Linked DNA regions of Homo sapiens: regions 1 and 2 are each reported to be linked to region 3. The links are microRNA targets in miRTarBase. Many come from high-throughput screens and were not tested one by one. Region 3 holds a microRNA gene; each other region holds the end of a gene's coding sequence.
What was found. The annotated mature microRNA hsa-miR-3126-3p reads CAUCUGGCAUCCGUCACACAGA and lies in region 3 at 1,458-1,479, opposite strand. An mRNA with a match to its seed (bases 2 to 7 or 8) in the 3' UTR can be bound and repressed. Matches are read on the target gene's strand: a 7mer-m8 pairs with bases 2 to 8, a 7mer-A1 pairs with bases 2 to 7 and ends in A, and an 8mer does both.

Region 1: miRTarBase lists GRID1 as a target of hsa-miR-3126-3p. Seed matches in the 3' UTR shown: 7mer-A1 at 3,477-3,483.
Region 2: miRTarBase lists ALDH6A1 as a target of hsa-miR-3126-3p. Seed matches in the 3' UTR shown: 7mer-m8 at 1,522-1,528.

The regions. Positions count from the first base shown.
Region 1 is chr10:85,598,447-85,602,697 of GRCh38, forward strand. It overlaps GRID1 (glutamate ionotropic receptor delta type subunit 1), which reads right to left. Exons shown (of 16, transcript NM_017551.3): 16 at 1,106-4,251. The coding sequence ends at 3,827. The region is part of intron 2 of GRID1-AS1 (GRID1 antisense RNA 1); the gene reads left to right. Among named protein-coding and RNA genes, the nearest start is that of GRID1-AS1, 23 kb to the left of the region's middle.
Region 2 is chr14:74,056,687-74,060,937 of GRCh38, reverse strand. ALDH6A1 (aldehyde dehydrogenase 6 family member A1) reads left to right here. Exons shown (of 12, transcript NM_005589.4): 12 at 192-4,091. The coding sequence ends at 296. BBOF1 (basal body orientation factor 1) reads right to left here. Exons shown (of 12, transcript NM_025057.3): 10 at 3,958-4,032; 11 at 3,680-3,794. Among named protein-coding and RNA genes, the nearest start is that of ALDH6A1, 26 kb to the left of the region's middle.
Region 3 is chr2:69,100,589-69,105,205 of GRCh38, reverse strand. MIR3126 (microRNA 3126) reads right to left here and starts at 1,524; the gene lies at 1,451-1,524. It overlaps ANTXR1 (ANTXR cell adhesion molecule 1), which reads right to left. Exons shown (of 18, transcript NM_032208.3): 10 at 2,266-2,364.

The DNA.
Region 1 (4,251 bases), not on the chromosome of region 3:
CGTCCCTCCATGTCCTCGTGGCCTTTAGGACCACTGGTCTTTTCTTCTTTAATGTGTCTGCTTCTCCTTTAGAACTTGAAAAGACAAACATTAGGTATGGAATTAGTTTTACCTTGGCACTATTCGGGGGATTTCTGATTTAGGAACTAGGCAGCTTCTTCTTAAGAAAACAGCCCTTTGTGGTTCCCTGCAGCTGCTCCTGTCCACCCATCTGCTCACAGAATCCAGCGGTGTCTGTTGCCCGCCCCTCAGCCCCAGTCTGAGGAGTGGCCCCAACGTGGAGAAGCCTGTCCTTGGTGCAGGGCAGAAGAACTAGGGCTGGGCATCCTCCTTTTGGTTTCTAGAAGAAGAAATTTTGATCATGTCAGACAGCCTCCTCAGATCAGCTTTACTGAGCTTGAGGCCGACAGCGGGGCTGTCCCCCACAAAGTCACTGAAGCCAGGGGACTTTTTCAGAGGTCGGCTGAAAAGCACACACATCTGGGGGTGGAAGATCAGGTTGATGGCTTGAGGCCTGTAGGATGACTGAGGGCATAAGATGTTCATTGGAGAAAGGTCTCCACAGATCCTGTAAGGGCCAAATTTTGAGAAGCCAAGCTGGGGGTCCAGCCAAGCTGTGCTCCACCAGGAATGACAGTCCCTTAGCTCTGAGACCTAAGCACAGGGAAGCAACTTATCTGAGGTCAGGGTGAGTGCAGAGATGAGAGTGGCAGCACAGTCAGCTGACAATTAAAGGGGTGTTCATTCCTCCAGGCCATGGGAGCACTTCTCTACGCATGATGATGACCCAGTTCTCTCCTAAGACACTTCCAAGAACGTAATATTTTAAAGAACACTGTTAGGTTAACCAAAAATTAGACTTGCTCCTCAGCCTGTCCCTCACACTGTCCCCTGGTTGGTTTCAGGGAACTCTGGATATGCACTGGGTGAGGAGGGCCTGCCCCCACCTCCAGGCATATCTGAGACCCCCTTGAGGAGAGGAGTTTTCCTCATGACTGTCCCTGCTGATAGCACAGAATTTACTTCATGATCTCAGCATGCCCAGAAACAAGCAGACAGTATTTCTTCACCCCAGAGAATAAGAGCATAGGGAGCAAAGACAAGATTTATTATTAAACAACTTTAATCCAAATGCTGATTATTATTTGCAGTGTCTGAAGGCACAAAATATACCTAAAATGTATGGAATAGTCTAAACAGAGTTATAAATCCAAAGAGCAAAGCATGAAAAAAAGATACATTCTGAGCTGACACAGAAATCTGAGTTGGGAAGTTTTTTTTTTTCCTAGAGAACTTGCTTGAATATCAATCATTTCCCCTCATGCCAAGGGTAGAAAATTCTAAAAAAAAAAAAAAATATATATATATATATATAAACATGGTGAAGAATAACACCATGAGGTGTTAAGGATTTTGTATAAGCAGAATACTTCTCTTGAAGATGCTGGTCTCTCTCTCTCTCTCTCTCTCTCTCACACACACACACACACACAAACACACACACACAGGCGCACAAACACATCCTCCATCTCCCTCTCTTTCCTCCTTGACACTCATTCTAAGCAGAACCATCCAAGAAGACATCCAAGCTATACCCCAGAAGACAGGCCATCTCAGGGGGCAATGAGGAAACAGAGTTGGTGTGAGATAAGGCAGTGAGACCAGAGTTTGATTAAAAAAATAGAGAGATATATATGTGAAAAATTGACCATTCAGGGCAGGGCCCCCAACGTGCTGATGGAAAACAAAGCCTGCTCTTCCTCGGGGTCATGGTAGCCCACCTAGGCTTCTCTGAGCATGCCTGGCTCCAAGGTCCACATGCTCTGATTGGAGAAATGTCAATGGATTGCCTAGGTAGCACGAATATCAGACCATTCTCAGCATCCAGCAATAAATAACATAATTATAAACACTCTCTTCCCCACAGTGCTTTTAGCTGACTGTGTGATTTGGCCGTTCTTTACTGCTCAATCATGTCACTAGGGACTTTAGGAAAGAAATCAATCCTGGGCTAGTTATCACCCTCATAAATACATCTCTCTAGAAACTCTACAAGGCTATAGAAGAAGCAATCAATAGGACTTTGTATTTCTCCATGATCACAGAACCAGGCTCTCAGCTCCCTGATTACTGCTGGCTGTGGGAGCTCCACCTCCTTCAGTGACAGATGTGGGCTGTGTATTCCATTCTGACGGGTCTGGAGATCAGACTAACCTTTGTCTTTAGGAGAGGAACTGAAGTGACACAACTCAGATTCCCCCAGTTCCACTCCTAATGGTTCTTTCCCTGATTCTGTAGTTTAGTTGCCTCAGAAAGGGCAACTGAAGGAGGGGGCGCTGTTAGGTGGTCCTAGGCTTAGAAAACTGGGCTTCCCTGCAGCTGTACCTGCACAGGGATAGGCCTGGAAATCTCAGAGGTTATCAGATGCCTGAGTGGGGAGGGCCCCTGCTCTGGGTTGGATTGCTGCTTGAAGAGGACTCCAGGTCTGGTCTGGAGAGGGTCGTAAAGGTGGAAGGGAGAGTTTGTGCTGGAGCCAGCCCTGTTTGTTGGACTGCCTGCAGGATTTATGACCCAGAGATAGGCCTTTACTTTTGGGGCTACAAGCAACTTCCCTGGTGGATGGGAGTTACACTTATGCTTCTCACCTAAGGCGCAAGGCAAGGCTTCCTCCTACCCAAATAAACATGGTCTCTTTTCTCTATTTCTCAGCATGCCCCATCACCTGGAGTACTGGTCCACCCACCTGGGCACCTCCCCCAACTCTTACTAACAGAGTCCGTTTGCCTGACACCACAAAGCTTCTACTCCCTGCATCTATGGCCTCACTTCCTTCTCTCACCTGGGACCATGGGTCCAAACCCAAGGGAATATTCTTCCTCTACCTGGCCTTTTGTTCCACCACCTCACCTGGTCCATGCAACTAACCCCACCTCGCAACTCCCTGCCCCCATGGACCTTCTTCCAGACCAACCCCACCTCCGCCCAGTCTCCCTGAGGAAACGATGGAGTCTGCCCTCCTTCCCCCAATATTCTATCACTTTTTGATTCTTCTAATTTTGAAAAGAAAATGAAAAACAAGGCCAACAGTATGATATGAGAACAGCTCAGTATCAAAGCCCTCAATTACCTCACTATGGGTAATTGTCAGCTTCTCTCGGGCCCATGGGGCAGAGGCACACTGCAACACACACAGCGGTGACTAACTCGTCCCGCAAGATCCAAGACAGGACAGGATAGCCCTGAGTCCAGGGCACCTCCTCAGCCCCAGGCTACCCAGAACAGCCGATCACCCTACAGCACAGCAACCCAGTGGGCCAGCCCAATGCGGGCTCCAAACTCACTCTTTATCAAGCTGAGGGACTAAAAGGGACGAGGTGCCAGGAGCAAAGAAATGGGGCAGCAAGCTGTGGGACAAGGCAGCGAGTGGCATGTGGGGTTCCTCGTCTTCCCTTCTCCCCCAGCAGAGAGGGGCTCCTTATCTGGTCGCCCCTCCTGCCCTCAGAAAGGCCCAGGAATGGGGGGGCTCCTTTGGCACTTCAGAATGATCACAAGTAATTTGCCTTTTTATTCATATAGAACAAAATTTACAAAGTCATTCATACAGTTTTTGTGTTTTTTTACTGACTTCGAAAATTGGGAATATTCAAAATACACTTTTACCCCACTCCATTCTGTCATTATTTACACATATGTACAAGAAAAATGAAAGAGTCTCTGTGTATGTGTGTGTGTGCGAGTGTGTGTGGTTTGTGTTGTTGTTTTCTTGTATTAAAAAGCTCTGCTGGTCGGGTGGGTGGGAGGGTGGGCAGGAGGGCAGGCGGCGCAGTCAGATGGAGGTCCCGTGGGAGGTGTCCAGAGCCTCTGGAAGGACGCCTCCAGGCACGGGCTGGAAGGACATGGGGATGGGGGTCTTCACCGGGCTCTGCCGGAACAGCCCCCCGTTGGGTGACCTGTGTTTGCACTGCATGGAGGGCATGGTCGCCGAGCTGCTCAGCGGCAGCGGCAGGTTGCTGCTGGGCCCTGATGAGAGTGTCCGGCTGGTGCCATGGCTGCTCTGCTCTGGCAGAAAGGTGCTGACCGAGAGCTGGGTGTTCTGGTACTCCCGTGTCGGCTCCAAGGTCTGGGTGGGAGCCAGGCCCCCCATCTCCAGGGCCGAGAGCTCAATCGACGCTGGGGAAATCTGCTTGTGAGCAATGTCTTCATCCATGAGGCTGTTCATGCGCCGGTGGACCTGCTCCAAGTTCACTTCTT
Region 2 (4,251 bases), not on the chromosome of region 3:
TTTACTATCTGCCAGGTATTATGTTAAATGTTTTAGATCAATTATCTTAGGAACAATATATATTGGATTCTGATTGCATTTCTCAATTAGGAAAGTGAGTAGCACTTTATAATACCTCCTTCAAAAGCTAATTAAAAGAAGAATCATGAAACCCCAGAAATATATGCTAACTTTTTTTCTGTTTTCCTTAGGGCATCCAATTCTACACTCAGTTAAAGACCATTACTTCTCAGTGGAAAGAAGAAGATGCTACTCTTTCCTCACCTGCTGTTGTCATGCCTACCATGGGCCGTTAGAAACAAGTTTGTTTAAGACTGACTCCATCCTGAGTAATCTCCCTTTATTTTTGACCAGCTTCATTTGTCAGCTTTGCTCAGATCAGATCGATGGGATTGGAATACATTGTAACTAAAATCTTCCTCAGGACTATTAACCCCCGCAAAGTTTCTATAGGGAACTGCCTAGTGTAACAATGAAACCAGATTTCTCACTTGCTCTTCATACTTCTATTTTGAGGTAACTGTTGTAACTATGAAATGCTTATCTGAAAGTAGTGCTTAAACCTGATTTCTAAAAATTATCCCATTTTCTGATGATTTGAAGGGGAGAAAAGCCAGTGTATGTAAAGAAAATGTTCCAGCCAGGCGCGGTGGCTCACGCCTGTAATTCCATCATTTTGGGAGGCCACAGTGGGCAGATTGCTTGAGCCCAGGAGTTGAAGAACGTGGCGAAACCCCGTATCTATTATTTAAAAAAATTGAAAAAGTAAAAAAAGAAAAGGGAAAAAAAATTTTTTAAAGAAGATGTTCCAATAATTGCAAGAAGAACTCTTAGATGGGGAAACAGGACAGAAATAACTCACCGCTTTTGGTTGATCCTCAAACATAGCGCTACCTAAATGCCACTGGGAGAGACCTCCTGCAAAGTTTTCTTTAGCCCCTCTTTTATCCCACAATACACAAGATATAATCCATTTTTATATATCCCAAAGTTGTGGCAACAGCTTCTTTCTTTTCTGCTCAATGCCACTTTGTTTCCTAGTAATTCATGACCACTATTAATTCTATCATTGTCACTGCTCCTGCTTAAGATCACTTCTCAAGGATACCTCAGTAAGCAATGGATAAATCAACTTTTTGTTATATGTGCCAAGTACTAAGTTTCAGGGTTCTCTTCAGCAATCATTAATTAATACTTCAGCCATTAATTCAGATGCAAATAATTTTCTTTTTTCTTTTTTTTGAGATGGAGTTTCACTCTTGTTGCCCAGGCTGGAGTGCAATGGCGTGATCTCAGCTCACCGCAACCTCCGCCTCCCAGGTTCAAGCGATTCTCCTGCCTCAGCCCCCCTAGTAGCTGGGATTACAGGCATGCGCCACCACACCCAGCTAATTTTGTATTTTTAGTAGAGACGGGGTTTCTCCGTGTTGGTCAGGCTGGTCTCGAACTCCTGACCTCAGGTGATCCGCCTGCCTCGGCCTCCCAAAGTGCTGGGATTACAGGCATGAGCCACCACACCCAGCCAGATGCAAATAATTTTCTTAGAAAATTATTTCAAAAGTTATTTTAGGCCCAGAAATCAAGGATTGTTCCAACCATGAAAATGGGTAAGACACCTGCCTTAAGCAAATCTAACCTGCTATTACTTGCCAAATTTTATATATTCTTTTCTCTTGCCTGTATTTCTAATTAGTGATTTGTTTAATGAAGAACTCTTCATGTAGAGCAATTAACTGGGCCTAAGAAATTTCGAAGCTTTCCATGACATAAAGTGGTTAAAAAAAAATGCTTTGACAGTCTTCTTCTGCCATTAGTTCAACTGCCTTTACGCTTTTTTTTTTTTTTTTTTTTTTGAGATGGAGTTTCACTCTTGTTGCCCAGGCTAGAGTGCAATGGCGTGATCTTGGCTCACTGCAACCTCTGCCTCCCGGGTTCAAGCAATTCTCCTGCCTCAGCCTCCTGAGTAGCTGGGATTTCAGGCATACGCCACCATGCCTGGCTAATTTTGTATTTTTAGTAGAGACAGGGTTTCTCCATGTTGGTCAGGCTGGTCTCGAACTCCCGACCTCAGGTGATCTGCCTGCCTTGGCCTCCCAAAGTGCTGGGATTACAGGTGTGAGCCACCACCCCCAGCCGCCTCTATGCTTTTTGTTTCTTTGATATATCTAAACTTAAGGTCAGAACAGAAATTCATGTGCTGAACAGAATGGATTCTTTTTGCAGTACCAATCCAATTGAATCCTCTTTTTATTTTCCTGCGTCCTTACCAGTCACTTTGATAGTGCTAACTAACCTACACTATGGGGGTTATTCATGAATTAAGTATGATAAAAAAAAAAAAGACCTTGAAAATGTTGTGTACCCTGTGGATTTGAGGCTTATTACTACCACCTGGCTGGATAAAATGTCAAAACCTTCAATCACTTAAGGTGACTGGAACTTTTGTAAAATACACTTATGATCCTACTGGGCCTTTTTTTTTTTTTTTTCTGCTTTCCTAAATATGAGGCAATAGAAATTTATAATTTGAGACTACAGTACCCCTTGTTTTAGCTCTTATCACAGCTGGCAACTGGTAGTGATTTTTTTTGTTGTTGTTTTGTTTTGTTTTGAGATGGAGTCTCGCTCTGTTGCCCAGGGTGGAGTGCAGTGGCACGATCTCGGCTCACTGCAACCTCCACCTCCTGGGTTCAAGTAATTCTCCTGCCTCAGTCTCCCGAGTAGCTGGGATTACAGGTGCATGCCCCCACACCCGGATAATTTTTTGTACTTTTAGTAGAGACAGGGTTTCACCATGTTAGCCAGGATGGTCTCAATCTCCTGACCTAATGATCCGCCCACCTCGGCCTCCCAAAGTGCTGGGATTACAGGCGTGAACCACCGCACCTGGCCCTGGTAGTGATATTTAATCCAATCCAACAACTATAGGCTGGGTTAAATAAAAGGTCATTATTGTCTATATTCCAAGTGGAATTAAATGTAGTCACAGAGATTCCTAACATTTTCCTTATATTTAAGGGAAATCACTTCTAAAAAAACACACTAATCAGAACTGTGATGCTCTAATTAGAAACAACTCATCTGGCCAACTATTTGCTGCTCAGAGTTTCTTATTTCTTAGATGAAAAAAACTCATCAGTTATATTCATGTGATCGCGGCTAAAAAGTCAGTATTTTCTTTTTGTTCTAATGTGGCTTCATTTGAAATTTCTCAGATTCTACATTGTACTAATTATGAATAACAAATTATAAATTAAAAACTCTTAAAGAGAAAAACTTGGCTTAAAAAAATCATTTCATATCTCCTTATAAGCCTTTGTCCTCTAGGTTGTAATGACTCTGACTTCCCACCTGTGATGGAAAGCTAAGAGTCACAAGGTCACTATGTTTACTCTTACGTAAAAGATAGTACACATTTTGGCTAGGCTGTTTACTTCAAAAGGCAACCTATAGGTTTCTACACAAAAAGAGGCACACATTTGCATTTGCATTAGTATAATATGCATTTGTACGGATATTGCTTTAAAAATTTATGTAATCTACTAATGCTATTTATTACTCATTCCACTGATCCCTGAAGTCTCTCAACTAGTAGAGAAAATAACCGTGATTTAGCAAGAAGCGACATGGGGAAGGGTGACAACAATATACATTGTTTGATTAGATACAGACTCCTTACTGTGTCAGACTCCTGAGGTTCTTTTGGAATAGTGGGTAGCACCACTTCACCAGAAGAGTCTGATATTGCAATTTGCTGGGTGATGAAGATTTTATCTTGAAGCTTACTTTCATCCCTGCAATAATGACAAAATAACAGAACCGTCAACAACTCTACACACATGAAACCTGGTTTAGAATAACAGACTTGTCATATTACTTTCAATTAGCACATTCAAGATGCCCACAAGAACCATCGTGTTGGGCTCATGTTTATTACTTAAGCAAGAGAGCTCTTACCCAAATTCCTTTGTTTCCCCACTGTCAGAAACAACATAGTCTGGAACTGGAGGCCTAGAACTCTGGTTGTATTTCCTGTAGTGGGTAAAAGTCAACAAAGATAATGAATGAGGCAGTGTCTCCTCATGCCTTCATATTTTCTTTTTGTATTTTAATTTTTTTTTATTTTTTATTTTTGTGGGTGATAGTAGGTATACGTATTTGTGGGGTACGTGAGATGTTTTGATACAGGCATGCAATGTGAAATAATCACATCATAGAGAATGAAGTATCCATCCCTTCAAGTATTTATCC
Region 3 (4,617 bases):
GATGGACTGGTTTCCCAAGAAAGAAATAAAATTTCCCAAAGAAGTTGGAAAATAGGCCTTCGAGTACTCACTTGACAAATCCATAGTGAGTTTGCATTTCATCTTCTTCCTATTATTATTTGGATGGGGTCTCACTCTGTCACCCAGGCTGGAGTGCAGTGGCATGATCTCAGTTCACTGCAACCTCTGCCTCCTGGCCTCAAGTGATCCTTCAGCCTCAGGCTCCAGAGTAGCTGGGGACCACAGGTGTGCACCACCACGCCCAGTTAATTTTTTGTATTTTTGGTAGAGACAAGGTTTCACCATGTTGCCCAGGCTGGTCTCGAACTCCTGAGCTCAGGCCATACACCCACCTCAGCCTCCCAAAGTGCTGGGATTACAGGCGTGAGCCACCGTGCCTGGCCACATCTTATTTAATACAGCATCTTGTGTAACCTTTGAGCAACGGCACATAGGGTAGATTCTCTCTCTCCCCAGCCCACTTCCATGTATCTTCAGAGAGCTTGGGCCTGAAAGCCTGCTTGTTTGGGAAGTCTTCTTTGGAAGGTATTGATGTCTTTGAGTTAAACCTTCAGGAGTTTCTGATGTTAGACTTGGGATTTTGGTTAAAGAGAAAAGGGGGACTTAAGTGACATCACAATTGACAGGGAGAAAAAAGAAAGAACTCTGCTGGGGGCACACGTCCAACTTTCACACTGTGACTACTCAGGGATATTTCAGAATGTTTTCAAATAGCACGTACTTTTTGGATCTGTGAGAGCATTTCCAAATATTAAGAAAACTAACCGAATGTTTCTAATGTTTGGAATTACTCCAAGGCCAGGAATTCCAGATGTTTGTGAGGAAGACACAGCATGTGTCTGTTTAACTACTAAAGTGGGTTTTATGATGTCAAGAAGGAAATATCCATAGCCCTTCAATTCTTCTTCTTTAAAAACAAGATAACCTCCTTCAAAAGGCTATGAGGAGCTGGGTGTGGTGGCTCACACCTGTAATCCCAGCACTTTGGGAAGCCGAGGCGGGTGGATCATGTGAGGTCAGGAGTTCGAGACCAGCCTGGCCAACATGATGAAACCCATCTCTACTAAAAATACAAAAAATTAGCTGGGTGTAGTGATGCACACCTGTAATCCTAGCTACTCAGGAGGCTGAGGCAGGAGAATCGCTTCAACTTGGGAGGCGGAGGTTGCAGTGAGCTGAGATCGTGCCATTGTACTCCAGCCTGGACAACAGAAGCAAAACTCAGTCTCCAAAAAAAAAAAAAAAATAGGCTATCAGGAGGAGAAAACTAGTGTGAGTGATTAGTCAACAAATGTGTGTCCTCCTGTCCTCCTTGCTCTCTTTACCTCTCAGGGCTGTTGTAGCAAAAAGATGTGAAGCATTTAGAAGGTACATAGCATTACAGAAAATGCAGTATATTATGACAGTTATCACTGCAGATGTGGAATAAATAATTATCTGTGTGACGGATGCCAGATGCAAATCATAACCAGTGCTTCTGGCATCTGTCCCTCATATAATCATCTTCCCCATCTCTCCTGGTCAACCACATGAATCACGTACATCTTTAAATTAGGAACTTGACTGCTACAAATGTCTTGTGAAGAAGCCAATGTTATGATAATTCATTTTTTCTCATGAAATGCACTTAGTTTTACTCCATATTCCTGTATTTCATGTAAGATATTCACCACGATGAGAGTTTCTTGGCTACTCCACGCAAGAATCATCCAGATTGAAAAAAGCTGCAGAATCTACATGTGCAAGCCTAATGGTTTGGTTTTCGGTTTATTCAAGATTAATGCATTTAGACCATTCCTTTTTCACACTTACCCTTAAGAGTCCCAATACTTTGTTAAGGAGGCTCATGTTTCTGCAGTCCTAATTAACCATCACCAGCACTCCCACCTGAGAGTGAGCCACTCGGTAGATGGCAGGGGACAAGGAAACCAGTGCCCCGCTGCTTCCGGAGGGCTGCTGCAGGGCTGGGGCTTGTGGCTCTGTGTTTTGTGGAGGACGGGGACTCAAGTCCAGCCTTGCTCTGCTTACCAAGCTGGACACCCATGGGGCTGTGCCCACCCAAGTGGTGCCTTTTCTGACTGGAACCACTGTAAGGGCTCACTATGCCCTTGCTGGGGGTCTTTCCAGCAAATAAGACTCTTTTCTGCTGGTTTCATGTGTGTGGCCTTGCTGGAAGACAAGGGTGGGAATTCCCTTCCTTGAAGCCACTTGTCGAAGAAACCCATGGACTCTGCAAGGACTTACTGAGTGTGACCGAGTCATTGATCTTGAAGCTGCAGAGGACCCTGTCCACGTTGCGGGCATGTCGGAAGCCGTTTCCTCTCACGACAACTTGAAATGACTCTGAAATAAAGAATAATGACGAGACTCGTTACTTGGCCAATAACCTTAAGCTTCGCATCTGCCCTGATTTAGAGCATTTGTTCACTATTTCACCAGGCTTAAAATATTCAAAAATTAATTTAGGTTGAACACCAAAAGCAACCAGGTGGGTTCCTTTCACTACTTACCAGTGCATCCTCACTAGGTGTCCCAAGAAGGGCCTATCACTTCTTATTTGAATTCCCACCCTTTTACCTTTGGGCTTACTGGTCCTCCTAACGCAGAACACCTTCCTCCCTCCTCTCTGTCCATTCAAATCTTAGCCAGTTTTCAAATCCAGGCAGTTTGAAAATCTGTGATCTCAGTAGCCGGAGGGAGCCACAGGGGAGGGGTCCTCCACTTCCTCTTTAATCAACTCACCTCCTCTGTGTCTGTTTTGCACATTGTACTCCCCTGAAAGGATTTCTTAAGAGCCCACGGTGCCTACATTTTAGAAAGTCACTGCCTTAGGGCATTCACAGCTAGTCCTGAACAATGTAGGACTGTCATTATGTATGGTCTGGTGGTGTTCTCTTGTCTTTTCTTCCCCAGCTGGAGAAACATTCCTTTAGGTCAGGAGTTGTTTGATACCACTATGGCATTCCTATCTCTACTGGGCACACAGTAACAGTACATAGGCTAGGTAGGAATAATTGTACTTAGGAATGAATCAAAGTCTTTCTTAGCAGTGGTCAGTTGCCAAGCACTACCTACTTGAATTGATATCAGCCCCTCAGTGTAGTACTCATTTGTCTCTGCATAGAAGAGATCATATATCTTGCCTGGCCTGCATATTAATTTCTCATTGGCATAATGTATGTTTGATTAATGCACATGAATAAAATCGTTATTAAGTAAAAACAACTCTCCTTTACCATACTCCTACCATGGAAAAAACCCAATAATTAGTTGGCTAAATGTTTGGGAATATTTGCTTAAGTTTGTTGGTATCTAATGGTCAGTGTTCCACTTTATTTCACTTTTATCATCCTTTTGTATCTAAAAATTGGGGCTCGGGATAATGCTATGTGGCATATCACAAGAGAAATAGACTGAAGGTCAGAGGAAAAAATGCAATGTTTGTGAATATGGATCTTACACAGTACATTGCCATCTAAATGTAGACTTGTTGTTGGAGGAATAATGAAATTAGAGAATTAGTATATGGGACTCTCGAAGCTTAATAAATGTCATGAGTATATGCCACCTTCAGTCCCAGGAAACTAATTTAGAGGCCATGTTTGCCAAGACAATAATAACTAATGCTAATTGCTCCCTCAATGTGAGCCAGGCCCTCTGTGAAATATTGTACATGTCTGATGTCATTTAAACCTCACCACAGCCTGGGGAGGTACAGATGAGACAACTGATCTTAGTGAAGTTAAGTAATGTGTCCAAGATCACACAGCTGGTAACTTGTCAGAATCAGAACTGGAATCGAGGTCTGTTAGGCACCAAATGCCATGCCCTTAGAACTCAGCCATTAGCTTCTGAACCACCATGCGAAAAGGGGGACTCACTGCCTTCTGACAGATGAGTCATTTAGGAGTTGAAGTTGTGATTTTTTTTAAAGCTTATTTTATTTTAATTTTAGGCAGGTTTGCTCATTTTGCAGAAAAGTGGAACAGGCCTGGATGTGAAGCAAGAAACTGAAATTTAAGTAAAAGAATACAGAGACACTACATGTGCCACAAGGAGTATAAGTTAGAAAAGAATGCTTTTTAGAAGTATAAGAGGCCTTCACAATAAGGAAATGGAGACTGTGACATTTTGAATGACTTGCTCAGAGTCATGTCATTAGTAAAGCAGAAAAACTGGGACTCATATCCAAAAGCTAAGGTGACGGGCCTATGGTTTTTTCAGGAGCATAAGTCCTATGACTATGAAGGATTTATACATACACGTTGATGCAAATGCACAATTGCTACGTTTAGAAAGATGGGCTTAGTAGTTTTCTCTAGATGTCTGTCAGGCATCTGACAGATTCCTTGGTTGGCTCAATAAGCAATTTAGTACGTGTCAAGCACTTGTAGAAGAATCTTATCTTCTCTTATTTGCTCAGTTAAGCCTATAGAAACCTATTTCTGTGTCCATTTTGAATGCCAGACATACAGACATCTGTTGTTTGATGTTTTTGCTGATTCCAAATGTTTTCTGCCTCACTTCTGTGCCTACTTCTCTTGTTTCCTCAAAGATCAGCAGAGGAAGAGAAGACTGTGGAAATGCAGGCCACAT